Homo sapiens: one gene and its partners. The protein of the gene in region 2 purifies or fractionates together with the protein of the main gene of each other region. This does not show direct contact. Each region holds a gene or a part of one and is shown on either strand. Other genes may lie near its edges. The genes, in order: CCDC12, LDAF1 and SLC44A1.

Region 1 (3,652 bases), on a different chromosome or scaffold from region 2:
GCCCAGGCTGGTCTCAAACTCCTGGACTCAAGTGATCTTCCTGCCTCCACCTCCCAAAATGCTGGGATTATAACAAGCTTGTCCAACCCGCAGACCAAGGCCCAGGACCACTTCAAATGCAGCCCAACACAAATTCGTAAACTTTCCTAAAACATTATGAGATATTTTTTGTGATTTTTTTTTTAAAGCTCATCAGCTATCATTAGTGTTACTGCATATTATGTGTGGCCCAAGACAATTCTTCTTCCATTGTGGCCCAGGGAAGCCAGAAGATTGGACACCCCTGGATAACAGGCATGAGCCACTGTGCCTGGCCGGTAGCCACATTTCAAGGGCTTGAAAGTCACAGGTGGCCCATGGCTACAGTACTAGACAGTGCAGATTAAAGAACACTATCACTGCACAAAGTTCTAGTGAGCAACACTGCTGCTCTAATCTCTAGAGCCAGGTGACAACCAGGAATTGCTGGTTGCCTGGAACCTGCAACTTGACAGCCAGACCTCAGCCCCAAGGGCTGGTCAGCCAGACAGCCAGTCTCCCTGTCTCAGAGCAGCAAGAGACAGCCCAATTCAGGGCAATCGCTCAGGAAAGCTTGGCATGTTTATGCCAAGTTAATCATCACCTTTAGAGAGCCTCCATTTGGCTGCTGAAGAAGAAAGAGGTCAAAGGAGGACAGAGTGGCCTCACACTGCCCTGCCGGACAGCACTGTAAAGAGATGCCAGAGTTTCATCCACACAGCCTTGAACTGTTCACCTACTCACCCAGCCAGGAACTTCTGGATGAGCATCAGGAAATGAGGTTCAAATACAATACAGAAAAGTGTGCCCAGGCTGGCTACCATCCCTGCTGGAAACCCTGGCTCTTGCAAAACTTGGCTACCAGAGTACCCCAGTCCAGCACTTTCAGACTGTACCCCTGCCCCTGTATCACTGCCAAGTGCTTGCTGTCAAACTCCCTGGAGCATCTCCACTCTCACCTCTATGCACCTGAATGTTCCCACCTCTAAAATGCTCCCTGGGAACACTCTCCTTTCCAGCTACCTCGATGACCTTCTCCCACTTCCCCATCCTCCGTGGCTCAGCTCAAGTTCCATGCTGCCTTCCCATGAAGCTTCCTCAGGCTCTGCCTGGCTTTCCCAGAAAATGAACCCCAGCAGTACTGTCTTTCTGCGTGTCAACGGGAACTGGCTGACCTACAAGATGCTGCTTCAGGCAGTGCTGTGTCCTCTACAGAATCCCCTTCCCCCAGGGGGTCTTGCATGGGCTGGAATCCTGGAATCCAGGAGACATTACTTCCCCTCCTCAGCCTTGGACATCCCAGCTCTCCTCAGCCTCTTGCCTTGCTCCTCTCACTAATAAGTGGCATCAGGTGGGCTGACCAGGACGTCTTTGTAAAACTACAGCTGCATGACTACAAGAGAGTTTTGCGCAGAATAATACACGGAAACATTGCAACCCCTAATCTTGTCTCTTTCCATCTGCCACAACCTCAGGACCCTGAATTGTCTTAATATCACTAAATTATGAGTTTATAGTCTGGTGAGAGTTAGGAAGAAAGATAAAACTGTGAGGAAAACCAACTCCATGCCTGAAATTCCTAAGGCCTCCAGCAAAACCATGCCCACAGTAAGAACTCAATGAAGGACCTGCCACTGAGTGCTAGGAAACCAGCAAGATGCCATCCTCATGGGGCAGACAGGTGCTCTCCAAGTGCAGGCAGAGAAGGTGCTCAATCCTGGTGTCTGTTGTCACATCAGAAACCTGAACTAAAAATGTGAAGCCGCTTCCTCTCTGAAGGAGGAGACTCAAGGGGTTTTATCTGGCCACAGCAGGCAGTCATACTTCCTCACCAGACTCCCCACTTAAAAGGTCCAGCAGAAAGGGCCACAGGCTGGAAAATCAACTCAAAGGTTAGACCCTTACCTGTCCTGTCCCCAGGCATTCACCTTAATAAAAAAAATCACTCAAGAACTATAGGGATTAAATATGACACTAAAAATACATGCAACAAAATCAAAAACAGATAAATTGAACTTCATCAAATTTTAAACTCTTTGCGCAGCAAATGAGACTATCCACCAGGTGCGGTGGTTCACACCTGTAATCCCAACACTTTGGGAGGCCAAAGCAGGAGGACTGCCTGAGGCCAGGTGTTTGAGATCAGCTTGGGAAACACAGTGAGACCCCCATCTCTACAAAAAATTAATTTTTAAAAAAATGACACTACTAAGAGAATGAAAAGATAATCCAGAGAATGGGAAAAAATATCACTAATCTCATCTCTAATAATGATTTAATATCCAGAATATATGAACAATTCAATGACAACTCAATAACAAGAAAAAGAGCCCAATTAAAAATATGGGCAAAAGGAATCTGGATACTTCTTCAAAGAAAATATATATACAAGTGGCAAACAAGCATATGAAAGGATGTTCAACATCACTCATCACTGGGGAAATGCAAATCAAAACCACAATGGGATACCACCACTTCACACCCATTAGGAAGGTTATAATTAAAAAAACGAAAAAAGAAGATGGCTGGGCTTGGTGGCTCACACTTGTAATCCTAGCATTTTTGGAGGCCAAGGCAGGAGGATCACTTGAACCCAGGAGTTCAAGACCGGCCTGGGGCAACACAGTGAGACTCCTGACTCCTTTAAAAAAAAAAAAAGAAAGAAAGAAAATAAAATAATAAGTGCTGGGGAGGATGTGGAGAAACTGGAAGCCTTGCACACTGCTGCTGGGAATGTAAATGGTGCAGCCACTACTGAAAACACTATGGTGTTTCCTCAAAAAGCTAAACAGAATTATCATATGATCCAGCTGTTTTCCCTACACATAATTACATTCCTCTCCCTGCTATATAAACCCCTGATTTTAGTTCGTCGAAAAGACAGATTTGAGACTGATCTCCCTTCTCCTCACCTGACATCACCCGAATTTAAAAAAAAAAAAAAGGCCCAGTGTGGTGGCTCACGCCTGTAATCCCAGCACTTTGGGAGGCCGAGGTGGGTGGATCACCTGAGGTCAGGAGTTTGAGACCAGCCTGACCAACATGGTGACACCCTGTCTCTACTAAAATAAAAAATTAGCTGGGCGTGGTGGCATACACCTGTAATCCCAGCTACTGGGGAGGCTAAGGCAGGAGAATCGCTTGAACCCAGGAGGTGGAAGTTGCAGTGAGCTGAGATCGTGCCATCGCACTCCAGCCTGGGCAACAAGAGCGAAGCTCCATCTCAAAAAAAAAAAAAAAAAATTAATCCCAGCTACTCGAGAGGCTGAGACAGGAAAATTGCTTGAACCCAGGAGGCGGAGGCTGCAGTGAGCTGAGATTGCACCATTGCATTCCAGCCTGGGCAACAAGAGCGAAACTCCATCTCAAAAAAAAAAAAACAAGAATTACCATATGATCCAGTAATTCCACTTCTGGCTATCTACCCAAAAGAATTTAAAGCAGATACTCAAACAGGTATCTGTACTCCCATGTTTCTTCTTTTCTTTTTTTTTTTTTTTTTTGAGATGGAGTCTCACTCTGTCGCCCAGGCTGGAGTGCAGTGGCGCATCTCAGCTCACTGCAAGCTCCGCCTCCCAGGTTCACGTCATTCTCCTGCCTCAGCCTCCCAAGTAGCTGGGACTACAGGCGCCCA
Region 2 (2,873 bases):
GCTGGATTTGGCCAACCATTGCTCTATAAGAACTGATATCCTGAGTTTTGTTTTTCTACAAAACAGCCCTTGAACTCCTTACCAAAAGTTTATCCTGTTATTATTCCTATGTTGAAAAATAAAGGGTGAAGTGGGTATAATATAAAATTGCTCAAGGATGGCTCTTATAGGATTGCTTAATTGAATCAACCCTGGAGTCATAATCACCTTTTCAAAAATCGCTTTGATCACTCTTAGTCTTTTGTTTGTTCATTTGTATTTTACTTATAAAATGGGGTCTTGCTGTGTTGCCCAGGCCATTCTCAAACTCCTGGCTTCAAGCAATCCTCCCCCGTTGGCCTCTCAATGAACTGGAATTATAGGCGTAAGGCACTAACTCACTCCCAGTCTTAAAAGATGTAAAAGGAGAAATATTGGCCTATTTTGCATATTGAGGGTGATGCTTCTGAAATAAAATTCCTCCCTGCCTCTGAACGCTGCTGTAACAGGGTGAGTTCTTAAAGATTATACCACAGGAAGTAGCAGAATCTGACTCCCTACTTATCAATGAAGAAATTGAAAAACAAATCCAGGATTTGTACTTGATCTCCTTATCTTCCCCTATTGCTGCCAACCAATTGTTTCCACGTGGGCAGAGGTTCTTAAGCTTTTTGTTCTCAAGTCCCATTTTACCTTCTTAAAAATTATTGAGGCATCTGAAGAGATGTTATTTATGTGGTTAATTGTATTAATAGCACTTTGGGAGGCCAAGGAGGGAAGATCACTTGAGGCCAGGGGTTTAAGACCAACCTAGGCAACATGGCAAGACCACATCTCTACAAAAAATACAAAAATTAGCCAACTGTGGTGGTGCGTGCCTGTAGTCCCAGCTACTCAGGAGGCTGAGATGGGAGGATCATTTGGGCCCAGGAGTTCAAGGCTGCAGTGAGCTGTGATCACACCATTGCACTCCAGCCTGGGCAACAGAGCAAGACCCTGTCTCAAAAAACAAATGAAATGAGCTGAAATATAAAATAAATAACTAACATGACATAAAACTATATACAATAAAATAAATTAAAATAAACATAACATAAATTACATTAAATCAAATTAAATATTAGCTGGTGCATGCTTGTGGTCCCAGCTACTCAAGAGGCTGAGGAGGGAGGATGGCCTGAGCCTGGGAGGTTGGGGGTGCAGTGAGCTATGATTGTACCACTGCACTCCAGCCTGGGTGACAGAGCTAGACTCTGTCTGGAAAAAAAAAAAAAAAGAATATTAATAATTATTTCTTTTTAAAAAATTTTCTTCCTCATTGTTTCTTGTTCTGAAATAATTATTCTATGAGAAATCATAGCATAAATTTTAAAAATATCTATTCATTTAAAAGGAACAATATTACCTGTTGATATAAATAACAAATTTTAATGAAAAGTAACTATATTTTCCAAAACAAAATGAAATTTGTGAGTGGTATTATTTTACATTTTACAGATCTCTTTCATATCTGCCTTAACAGTTGTCAGCCGGCTTCTCGTTTGTGTGGCTGCATTCATTCTGTTGTGCTATGTTGTCCTGTTTGGAGTATTTGAAGAAGACCTAGCATCACTAACATGCGGTTGGGAGAGGGAGGCAAAGCTTTTTTAAACGATTGTGGATATTCTATGATAGTCCACCAAAACTCCGTAAGTGATAGTTTCTTAAAGGTTAGCTGAAATGTGAAATTTTTCTACTCTATTTTATTGAAATCTTCAGGTCTGTGTCACACTTTAAATTGATCTTTATCATGCATGATTTTCTAACTTTACCCATTGGTCAATGGGAGAATATCAATTCATTGAGTCATGCAGATCTTCCAAATATATTTTGAAAAATTGCACTGTTCCCTTGTGAGAGAATGTGAGTGAAAAAGGCATATAATAGGTCATGTTATTGTGAACATGGTTTTCATCTGAGAACCCTTGCATTAGCGAATTCTTTTTTTTTTTTTTTTTTTTGAGACGAGTCTCACTCTCACCCAGGCTGGAGTGCAGTGGCTTGATCTTGGTTCACACAACCTCTCCCTTCTGGGTTCAAGCAGTTCTTCTGTCTCAGCCTCCCGAGTAGCTGGGATTATAGGTGTGCACCACCATGCATGGCTAATTTTTGTGTTTTTAGTAGAGGTGGGGTTTCACCATGTTGGCCAGGCTGGTCTTGAACTCCTGAGCTCAAGTGATCCACCCACCTCAGCCTCCCAAGATGCTGGGATTATAGGTGTAAGCCACTGTACCCAGCCTGCATTAGTGAATTCTTTATAACTCAAAAAAAGATAACTCCCTCATTAAATGATCGAAAGCATGGAATGGGGGGAAGAGGAGCTATATAATTTATTTCATGATTTAATGGAATTTTGGCCCTAAAACATAAAAGATAATACAGCTTAAATTTTTAAAAAAGAAAAGAAAAAGGAAACAAAACTGTAAGTTTCCCTTACATATGAAACCCAACTAAACAATATTTAGATCAAATACACTGACCTGCCTCCTATGTAGATCAGCTAGCCTCTGAGGGGCAAAACCACACTGCTTGGTTATGGAGACTGCAAGACCTTCCAGGGCCTGCAGCTCAGGAGAAGTAGGGGCCCTGGGCAGCTGTGTTTATTTGCAGAGCCACCAAACTCACTACCCCATATCATAATCTTCCAAACCAGCCTGAGCATAACTAGCTTCCTTACATCTTTACTAAGAAAAGGAAAGGCTTCTTTCTTAGTTTTTTGTTATCAGGGAGGAATGGTTTAGGTGGCAAATAATGAAAAAAACCAAAGTAGATACTAGTTTAAACACACAGGGAACTTTTTTTTATTGCTTAATGAAAAACTGGAGACAGCCCAGGGCTGGTGCAGCCAGTGTGGT
Region 3 (3,752 bases), on a different chromosome or scaffold from region 2:
AACCTGAAAGGAAACTAGAAAGAATGCAGAAGAATTCAAGATCTCAATCAGTTGAGTACTTGCTGACCTAGCAGCACTTTCTTATGTTATTTAATCTTGACCACAAGCCTTTGCAGTCATCCCTGCTACCAGCATTTCACAGAAGCGGACAATGAGATTTGGAGAGATAACTCGTCCACAGTCACGAACTCAGGAAATGGCATAGGAAAACATCAATTAGGAATTCTTCTTCCCTGGCCCTTTCTGTAGCTGTCCCCTTACAGGCTACCATTCCAACTTTCCTTGGCTTAGATTCCCTTTCAGTGCATGTAAAGTCAATTTAATTCTGTGTTCTTTTCTTCCCTCTATACTTTAACTAATCTTTAAAACTTGATGTCTCATATTTGGTGAATCAGTCCTTTTGGAAGTCTCACTCCCTTGCAGCTTTGCAAATAAAGTTTTTCTTTTCTTTCCTGTGGCTGTCTTTTGAGACATTCTTTGACAAGATGAAATGACATATGAAGGCTATAACAGTGCCTGATAATGTGGGGTTTTTTTTAACATCATTATCTTTAGTTTTATTTCTTTCACTTTTTAACTGTTTTCACCTCATACTGTATTTCCTAACGACTCGTTTGGAATTGTAAATTTCTTGAAGGTAGTTACCACGTCTACTCTAACTTGTTGCTACTTCCTTGAGTCTTACTGATTTAGCAACAGGAACTTGGTAAGTCTCTTTTGCTCGCCTCTTTATTCCCAGTACTAGTCACTGGAACGTAGTGTGTCTTCAGTAAGTATTTTTAATATGAATAAATTAATGTCCCCTTATTGTTTTTTGTAGACTATCCTGTATAAGAAAGTTTAGCTTAGATCCAGTATGGCTTTGACTTGCGAGCCTGGATAACTTTTTGCCTTTTCCTCATTTCTGGCTATTTATTACCATTTCAACCTTGGGAACATTTCATTAGGTTCTTGGTCCCTTTCAAGCCTCAGTTTCCACATCAGCAAAATGGGGACAGTAGCAACAGATGCTTGTTTCTTCCCGTCTTCTTATCACCTATTCCTTCTCCAGGAAAGGTTTCTTGTGTACGCTTTCCTCTGGAGAAAAAAAACAGCCGACGGGGCGGTAAGAAGCCATCAGGATCCTGAGTTGTGCGTCCAGTAGGGAGAGGGAGAAGTCCCGCTTGCCTCCTAGATCCGGAAGCAATCCGGCCCCTTTTTGGCAGCGAGTTGGCCCGGTCTTTGGCTGCCTCAGACCGCGTTGCCCTCCAGCCTCGAGGCAGAGAGCTGCCTCGGTGCCACAGCTAAATAAGCCCGGCGCCGCGCAGCCTCTGACACGCGCGGAAGGGCCCGGCCTTGTTCTGGCTGCCGCCGCCCTGCCACCAGCACGGCGCTGCACTGGGGGCGGGGAGTCTGATGGGAGACGCGCGCGGCGCTGAGGAGGCGGCGGCCCGGGAGAGGGAGCGGGAGAGGGACTGGGCGCGGGAGGCGGGAGGCGGGGGGACAGAGGGAGGCGCCGCCGCCGCCGCCGCCCGCCCCTTTCCGCTGGGGAGCAGCTGCTGCAGCAGGAGCAGAGCAGGAGACGCGTAGCCGCCGTCGCCGCCGCCGGGGGATGTGGCCGGCGCCTGCCTCTAGCCGCGCCGCCTCTTGAGTACCAGCCGCCGCTGCAGCCGCCGCCGCCGCCTAGCCGTGCGGTGCCAGGCCGCGCCCTCCCCGGGCGCCCGCCGGCTCGCATGCCGAGGGGCTCCGGGGCGTAGCTGCGCGCCCGGCGCCGCCTCCGGGCTCCTTCGGCCCCGCCATGGGCTGCTGCAGCTCCGCCTCCTCCGCCGCGCAGGTGAGGGGCTCCCGCCTCCCGGCCGCCCGCCCGGATGCCTCCCGTGCGCCGCGTCGCGCGGCGGGCGCCCGCCGCCCGATACCTCTCGCTGTCCCCAGCCTCCCCTGAGCGCACCGTGCAGTCCAAAGACCCCCACTCCGCCTTTCCGTCCGCCGGGTCCCGCCGATGCCCGTGCGCTGGCTCCGCGGCTGCCGACTCAAAGGCGCCTCTGCGCGGCGCCTAGTGCGCCCTCAGCTCTTCCCGGCCCCTTCCCCAGTCGGCCCCCTCCTCCCAGTCACACCTGAGCTGCCCGTCCCGCCCGCCTGCAGGTAGAGGCTGCACTGGCGCCTCCTCTGCCCCAGGTGGCATCCCCTTCCCTGTTCTTCCGGGCCTGGCTCCTCTCTTCCACCTCCGTGGAGTCTCCCCGCCATCCGCCGCCCGTTTTCTGTGCTCCTCGCAGGTGTACCCCCAGCAAGAGCTCTTCACCTCTCCCACCGAATTCCAGTTTCTGCTTCATTAGATATTCTGTCCCTTTTCTCTTGCCCGCTGCCCCCTGGCTGGGTTCAGATGGTTTCAGCGGGTCCCGGAGCCCTTCCACGGCCCGCTCCGCAGACCTCGCTTGCTCGCTTGCACCCCATCCCCCCTTAGTGCCGTGACCCGGGCCCCGCGGCCTCCCCGCACTCGGAGGCCCCTGCGGGAGCGCCGACTCTGGGCTGGGAAGGAGATTGGGCACCTGGTGGGTGACGGGAGCGCTACGGAAACTCCCTCTTTGTTGCCAGTGTAACAGGAGGAAGAGGTTCCGAATTTAGTTTTTCTGTGGGCACTGGCTGAATGTTGTCGCTGAGGGCTGAGATGCAGAGATTTCTCTCAGCTTCTACCCTGCCCCCATCCAAATTTCGCCAACCTCCTTCTCTCGGATCCGAGCCCTTAACCTGGGTGGAAATGTTTAGACAACTGTACGAGGATCAAATGTAATAGAACTCGACTACTGGCCACTAATAACTGAGAGGACCTGTTTGTAAATTACCTAATTTAGTGGATTAGCGAGTGTATTTACAAATACTATAAAAAGCAATCAGGAATACTGCATCAAACTGTCTTGTGGTGGTGTATGAAAAATAGGCTCTGACAACGCCTGGGATGTAATCTCACAGTTTCATTAGCGTAGTTTCATTAACTGTGGTCTGTGATTTGTTTGTTTTAGGGGGCAGAAAAGGGCTCTTGTTTTTAGAAATAAAGGATGGTTGGTTCTTGGTGAAGAAAAACGCTAGTTTGGGGGGAAAAAATTCCTCCAGAAAGCTAGCATCTGTGATAATGCCAGAAGTGTTTTTGCTGCTGCTAAATGACTATATATAACTCAGTTTTAAATAACCTGCATACTTGTTCTGAAAATCTGAGATCTGTTAGAGAGAAAATGACTAGAATTGCAGATGAATGGGGGACATTTGTGTTTTATTAGGTATCCATCCTATCATCCTATTCCTCCAGTCTTTTTTTTTTTTTTTTGAGTGTTTGCTTACCCGTTAGCTTTTTTTTTTCCTGCTAGCATTATAGTCAGGCTTTTTGGTGTAGTTAAAGATTCCTATTCAGTTATAATAGCAAAGTAAAACTATACGTAGAGGTGTTAGGAAGGAGAGGCTTGGTATATCAGAGTTTTCATATTAACATATAAAGGTGTAGAATTGCACATAACTTTCAACTGGTTAGGAATTTGTGGGGGTCTAGTTGGGTGCTCTTTAATATTTACTTAAGTATAATTTTCACCAAAAAGGTGTTTTTCAGATTGCCTTTCTTTTCAGAATTGAGTTAATTTACATTCCCTTTTGGTGGTGAAATGCCTTTAAGACAGAAAAGTATTGATAGTTTATGGATAGCTTGTTCAGTGCATGAACAGTTAAATTTGGGAGGGATGGGTGCTGCATCAGAACTCTGCTTTAAAACCGATAGTGGGTCTTGCATT

Evidence for each region.
Region 1: the proteins of LDAF1 (region 2) and CCDC12 purify together in Homo sapiens (affinity purification with mass spectrometry; one large-scale study listed by BioGRID and IntAct). This does not show direct contact.
Region 3: the proteins of LDAF1 (region 2) and SLC44A1 purify together in Homo sapiens (affinity purification with mass spectrometry; one large-scale study listed by BioGRID and IntAct). This does not show direct contact.

The regions. Positions count from the first base shown.
Region 1 is NC_000003.12:46,970,111-46,973,762, forward strand, and holds part of CCDC12 (coiled-coil domain-containing protein 12), read right to left. Parts: intron 1-3,652.
Region 2 is NC_000016.10:21,175,661-21,178,533, forward strand, and holds part of LDAF1 (lipid droplet assembly factor 1), read left to right. Parts: intron 1-1,476; coding exon of another isoform or gene 1,477-1,498; exon of another isoform or gene 1,499-1,501; coding exon of another isoform or gene 1,502-1,574; exon of another isoform or gene 1,575-2,873. UniProt on the Homo sapiens protein: Plays an important role in the formation of lipid droplets (LD) which are storage organelles at the center of lipid and energy homeostasis. In association with BSCL2/seipin, defines the sites of LD formation in the endoplasmic reticulum.
Region 3 is NC_000009.12:105,243,092-105,246,843, forward strand, and holds the start of SLC44A1 (choline transporter-like protein 1), read left to right. Parts: upstream 1-1,559; 5' UTR 1,560-1,777; coding exon 1,778-1,813; intron 1,814-1,927; exon of another isoform or gene 1,928-2,502; intron 2,503-3,752.